Linked DNA regions of Homo sapiens. The protein of the gene in region 2 interacts with the protein of the main gene of each other region in a biochemical or structural test. Each region holds a gene or a part of one and is shown on either strand. Other genes may lie near its edges.

Region 1 (3,013 bases), on a different chromosome or scaffold from region 2:
TGGGAGCATCTTAGGGACAAAGCGGGAAGGGGCAGGGGACCTACCTAAGGTAACTTTTGCCCGTTTGCTCCAGCAACGTGTCGGCGCATGGTGTTAGTTATACAGTGGTAAAAACATGGGCTGTAGGGCCTGACACCAGCTGTCCAGACAGGTGACTCTGAGCACATCTCTAGGGCCCCTCAATCTCTTTCCTCATTTGTAAAGTGGGGTGATGTCTCTCCCACCCGTGTGACAAGGCTGTCATGCAGCTTCAGATGTACATGAAATGGCCTTGAAAGCTACAGAGCAGCCTACAACTAGGTGTGTTCATGTTAGGATCAAGGGCAAGAGGCCTCCCTGGAGGGCTATGGATCAAACACAGATCCGATGATCTAGTAGGGACCAGGAACTCTGAACAAACCCTTAAAGACACGGGATTTTGGCAGGCAGGACCAGATAGACTTTGCTGAGTGACCATGTGTTAGGTGCTGTGTCTAACCAATTAATTCCTAAACATAATCTACTCAAACCAAATTCTCTAGGCCAAAAGGGCTTTTTGGCCTTTATACTCAGGGGATACCAAAAAAGGACATAAAAATAAAGCCTTCTACATTCCAGTTTAAAAGACAGTGAACATAATATGATCTGTTCTGGAAGCTTTTTATTGTTGCTCCAAGTTTAAGAATTTTCACTGATGGCAGAAAACCAACACTTTTAGACAATCTCCCGCATAGCCCTGCCCAGCTTCTGAATCTTGGTCTTGACAGACATGTCAACATATTTCTCGCCAATGCGCACAATCATTCCACCCAAGATTGACGGATCAGTCTACAAAAGAAGTAAGACTGGAAATGTGAAAACGCGCTAATCAAATGGGACACACAAAAAAGTGTTTTGAAAGGCTAAATGTGTTGCACAAATGTAAGAGGTTATAATTACACCTAGAAAAAGGCAAAAGTAAAACTGCACAGTCAGATAATCATTTAAATTTAAAATAAATACAAAATTTTAACTACAGAAAAATTAGTATAGAGTTAGATCTAATATTTCACTAGTACTTTCTGTAGCCATTTTAAGCTTAAAATAACCCGAGAAAACGTACCATAAATAATTTAAAACCTACCTTAGCCTCCAATTTCAATACTTGGCCTTGACTTAGGAAGCTCTTGAGGACAGTTTTTAATTCAGAGAGTGTGGCTTCTTCTAAAGGCTGAAAGGCAAAACCATCCTTTCAATTTAGATAAAGCAAAACAGAAACTTCCAGAGTTAAAATACCCCAGGCCCACATCACCAAGACAGGCCTTGTGAGCTCCTCCCTTTGCTACCTGGGCCCATCATGGAGCTGCTCTGCAGCATTCACTCCTTGTTCACGCTGGAGGTTCAGGGAGCACAGGAAGGCCCTGCCTCACAGCATCACCCGGGCAGCTCCCACTCAGCCGTTCAAGGACGGCCTGTAAATGCCACTCCCTCCCTGCCTCTGCTCTGTGTGCTAGCAGTACAACTTGGAACTAACAAGGAAAGGCCTTCAAGTTTCTAATGCCTGAAGATGCAGCCCCATCAATGCAGGAGGACACAGGCCTCTCCTGGGTGCAGCCCTGGGGACACGACATGCATCTATCATGTCCTTGGCTGAAAAGTTGCCATTTTAACCTGGTTTTACATCTTCATGTTTGCCTAGCTCTGCTGGCTGTTCATCTCCCCGCATCCACAGCTACCTGGAGCTCTGGCAGGCCACTCCACTCTCTGAACCCCAGTGAGAGAACCTGGAGCAGTTGGCTTTTCCTGAAGTCAGCTCAGCTCCATAACCTACTTTAGAGCAAGCACCTCAAATGTCCAGACTGCACTCTCCTCTCGGCCCCAACTCTTACTCCTGGTTAGTTATGTTATAGTGTTAAGTGTTCTAATGGTGAAAATGAAGAAGGCTGTTAAACCAAAGGCCTTTTTTTTGAGACCGAGTCTCGCTCTGTCACCCAGGCTGGAGTAGAGTGGCGAGATCTCGGCTTACTGTAGCCTCCGCCTCCCAGGTTCAAGTGATTCTCCTGCCTCAGCTTCCCAAGTAGCTGGAATTACAGGCGCATGCCATCACACCCGGCTAATTTTTGTATTTTTAGTAGAGACGGGGTTTCACCATGCTGGTCAGACTGGTCTCGAACTCCTGGCCTTGAGTGATCCACCCGCTGCAGTCTCCCAAAATGCTGGGGTTACAAGTGTGAGCCACCACACCCTGCTAAAAAGGCCTTTTTTTAACTTGTCATAAATCCTACCTCCCTGGCCCCTCCTCTAAGAGCCTAAAAAAATTTGGCAGAAAAATTTATGTCTTTGTAAAGATATAACAATATCCTTTTTTTGGGGGTGGGGGGTGCTGGTGGTGGCCAGAATCTATTCGTGTTCAAAACATGATTTACTGAGACTAAAAGGTTACAGAATTCTGAAATATACATACCCTCCACTGAGACATGTACCAACTGCCAGGTACCTGTCTATGCCAGGCACATTTCATGCCTACTATCTCCCTTCATGTGGGCAACCCTGAAAGGCCACCGGTCATTATGCCCATTTTACATATGAGGGAACGGAGGCTCAGGGTGGGTAAGAAACTCACCTAAGGCCACATCAGCAGGTGAGGACCAGCCCCAATATTTGAAACCAGTCTGTGTATTTCTAAAGCCTGTGCTCTTAGTCACTCATCAAGACATAACGTTTTTCAAACAGTACAGACTCACGCACCCAACAGTATCAACATCAAAAGCATTAGTAACAGTTGGTTCTAAAATCTTTTGCAAAAACAAGCATCCTTTAAAAGAAAATCATGGCCTTGTGGCTGTGCACGGTGGCTCACACCTGTGGTCCCAGCACATTGGGAGGCCAAGGTGGGTGGATTGGCTGAAGTCAGGAGTTCGAGACCAGCCTGGCCAACATGGTGAAACTCCATCTCTACTAAAAATACACTAAATTAGCCGGGTGTGGTGGCAGGTGCTGTAGTCCAGCTACTTGGGAGGCTGAGGCAGGAGAATTGCTTGAACCTGGGAGGCGG
Region 2 (3,661 bases):
CCTGTAATCCCTGCTACTCAGAAGGCTGAGGCAGGAGAATAGCTTGAACCTGGGAGACAGAGGCTGCAGTGAGCCGAGACCGCACCACTGCACTCCAGCCTGGAACAGATCGAGACTCCGTCTCAAAAAGATAGCAACTAAGATAATAAGTGTATTTCACTGTAACTTTTTACTTACTTTAGCAGGTTTTTCACCTTTCACTTCCACATTTTCCAATATCCTTGCCACTCCTATTCCTTTAATTACTTGGCCAAACACCACATGTTTCCCATCCAAATGAGGAGTTGGAACTGTTGTGATAAAAAACTGAGAACCGTTTGTGTTGCGGCCTGCATTTGCCATGCTCAGTAAACCCTCCCGATCATGCTGTAGAAATAAAAATTAAAAGAAAACCAAGGTTAGATGTGTTCTTTTCTGAATTGTGTGTTAGTCTGAACTGTTCTTTTACTGAACATAAAACTGGGGTGCACTATACTACCATTTAGATCAAACTACTTTTTTTTACTTTTCACTTATAAAATTTTTTAATTACTTTTTATTTTTTTATAAACTGCAACCTTTAATTCACAAAACATGGGGCACTTAATCACTTTAAACTTTAAAAAACCTTATCAAAGTAAATAGGTAACAGAAACAATAGTCGGGGGGAGGGTTATTTCTAAATTGGCCATGAGAAAATACTTACACTTCACCTTTAAAATGAAGATGCAGCATTATGAAACTCTTGTAATATATTTTGCCCTCTTTATGATGAATGCTCTTTTTTTCTGGGAAGACCTGAACGGTCTTCCAAATTCATAAATATGCCTACAGTATAAGTCTTCCTTTACAAAACATCAATAAACTGGAACAATAATGGGATACTGAATTTACCCAAGACATTCAGTTTGGTACTTTCCTAATCTCAAAAGAATCCAAATCATACAGGATTTGGATTAGGTTTTCATCCCAGATGAATCACCTCTTCGGAGAGTGCTCAAAAGAAACTGCTGCATACATCTTGAAATCAAAATTCTACCTTGGCATAATCCTGTCAAAGGATCTATGAAACCCAATTTCTTAACCTTTTCACTTTATCTCCTAGGCTTTCTAAATGTATTCCTTGTTGGTGCATGCACCGTAACTCTCATGTTATATAATGTTTCATGACACCCCCCACCCCACCAAAATGCCTTTTACTCCCCTCAGTCTAAATCAAATTCAGATTTTAAGGCCACCACGTTTATAGAAAGCAAGAATCATGTGTCTTGTCTATAGGCCCCTTTTCTCTATGTCAATGTGATCATCACATCACCTTTAGTTTTCATCCTTCTGGTAGCTTCCTTTGGTACAACAGTAACTAGAACTTTATTTCCTCAACGTCTCTTGCCTTTGTCTTTCCTCACCGACGTCCCTTTTTAAATTCTGCATCAATACTACAGTTCCTGCCTAACCAAATCTCAGACATGTTGCCGCCTTGCAAGACCCAGTCTGCACAGCCCAAGTAGCCATTCCTCCTCAATGACTTCCATAATAATTCAGACTGCATAAATCACATCTTTCTCCTGCAGTATATAGACAGTATTAGCAATGTTATACAAGCAAGGATATTCAATCAATTTAGCATTTATTTATATACTATTATTCTCCAGTAGTCCCATGTATCTTAATCTTGTCTCTGAGGTAGGATTATAAATTCCTTGTCATCAAGGCCTTTCATTTTTATAAACCCTTTGGTGCCAGTGATAGTGGCTCAATAAACACTGACTGGAAGACTGACGACATTTTTTCAAATTATCCTAATACCCTTGCTCATATTCCTTATTTCCAAAAATATCACTTTACTTTTGTACTTACATGTCCATTCTTATAACTTGAATGATGCAATATACCCCAATTACATCTTGGGACAACGAAGACAAGAAGGCACAGGCACCACTGAAGTCCTTTAGGAGCTTGGACATTTAACTATATCTGCTAGTGTGCAAATCCCCTGACATCCTGGATATTAGTGATGGTTTTGTTGCTCTTCAAATTCAAGGATAAGGATGCACAAGTTACCATCCTTCCAACAATGGAAACATTTTTCCTGGAAACAATTTTGCCAGATGCTGGTCGCATTTAAAAACTCACTGGCTTAACTGAAGCATATAAAAACTGGATCACAATGAAATAATGCTGAATTAATCATTACTGAATGAAAACTTTTCCATATTAAAGAACCATTATTTACAAAAGTGATTCCTATTACAAGAAATGGAGAATCTAAGCACACTTGAAACATTTTTTGGTGTCTTAATCCAACAAGTATTCCAGATATATAACAATCTTTTTATCAGCAATAACATGCATTTTCTCTACTTTACCTTGTAATGGAAATTTTCATCTTCAAATTTTTCACCATAAATACTTTCTCCACCTGTCCCATTCTGATTTGAGAAGTCTCCACCCTGAATCATAAATTTCTTAATAACTACAAAAAAGGAAAATGGCTATTAGTGACTGAGACATGGATGCCTTTAGCAATGCTTACTAATGGATACGTACGTAAGACAACTTTGTAGTGCATGACTCTAGTCATGTCTCTCTCCTGTTTGTCGCTCCCCACCCGTCTCCGCAACTCCAAACGCTTCAGGCTTTTCACCATCTGAATCCAACCTATTTTCACTGCCTGATCCCTGCTAACATTCAGAAAATCGGTTCAAATGATACCTCCCCTATAAAACTGTCACTGAAATCCCTAAGCTGTATGTCCTAATTTTTCTCCCATAGTATCTTGACTCTGCCTACATAACATATGGCATTATGATCTGCCCCTTCCAGCAATGATCTCCTTAAGTACACCAACTGTATTGTTTTACATCCTTATAACTATGTGCATGTACACATAGTACATATTAGTTACTCAATAATGTCTGCTGAATACAGACCAATGATTCCCAGTAGATTTGTTCTACCCTAATGGAAAATTTTCAGCAAATATATCACTTTGTGTCAAAGGTTACCAAGATTGCTTTCATGTTCAGAGAACCCTAGAGCTCACACAAATCAGTATGTGGTTGGATCACAGTGGTAAGGATACACAGCGAGATGACGGGAAAGACACAGGCAGAGTCTGGAAAAATCCATGTGCAGGCTTCCTTATGCTTTCTCCGTCCCATGAAGTGCTACAGAACACACACTTCCCCCAGCAACAAAAATGCAGCAACATGTACACAGTATTTCTGCCCAGGAGAGCCAATTAGAGACTCAGCACCCAAGGTATTTATTGGGCACACTCTACCTAGCATGTACCAAAATTCCAGACTCCCCAAAAGAGAGCACACATTCATGTTTGTACAAATAGGCTAGGCATAGTAAATCACCATTACTATTTAGGAAATGGTACAAGTGTCAAGTTCCCAGACTCCAAACAAGTGCTACTCTTGCAGGCAGACCTTTCTAAAGATAGCAGTCTCACACTTGCTATGTTAAATATTTTCTGCATATAGTTTATTAGCATATTTCAAGTTTTTATTAAACATGAAAGTAAACATTTTAAATATTTTTTAAAAAGTTAATTTTTTCTTAATAAATCGTTTAAAAAATGTTGCTCTTGTGATTATTGCTTATTTGCCTATTTATTAAACAAATACTTACTGAGTTCTTACTCAATAACTGTATTAGATGCCAAAAACAAAAT

Evidence for each region.
Region 1: the proteins of PPID (region 2) and ATP5PO form a complex in vitro, tested with the Homo sapiens proteins (one study listed by IntAct).

What each region holds. Positions count from the first base shown.
Region 1 is NC_000021.9:33,902,833-33,905,845, forward strand, and holds the end of ATP5PO (ATP synthase peripheral stalk subunit OSCP, mitochondrial precursor), read right to left. Parts: intron 1,190-3,013; coding exon 1,103-1,189; intron 808-1,102; coding exon 694-807; 3' UTR 621-693; downstream 1-620. UniProt on the Homo sapiens protein: Subunit OSCP, of the mitochondrial membrane ATP synthase complex (F(1)F(0) ATP synthase or Complex V) that produces ATP from ADP in the presence of a proton gradient across the membrane which is generated by electron transport complexes of the respiratory chain.
Region 2 is NC_000004.12:158,716,835-158,720,495, forward strand, and holds part of PPID (peptidyl-prolyl cis-trans isomerase D), read right to left. Parts: intron 2,453-3,661; coding exon 2,346-2,452; intron 367-2,345; coding exon 178-366; intron 1-177. UniProt on the Homo sapiens protein: PPIase that catalyzes the cis-trans isomerization of proline imidic peptide bonds in oligopeptides and may therefore assist protein folding. Proposed to act as a co-chaperone in HSP90 complexes such as in unligated steroid receptors heterocomplexes.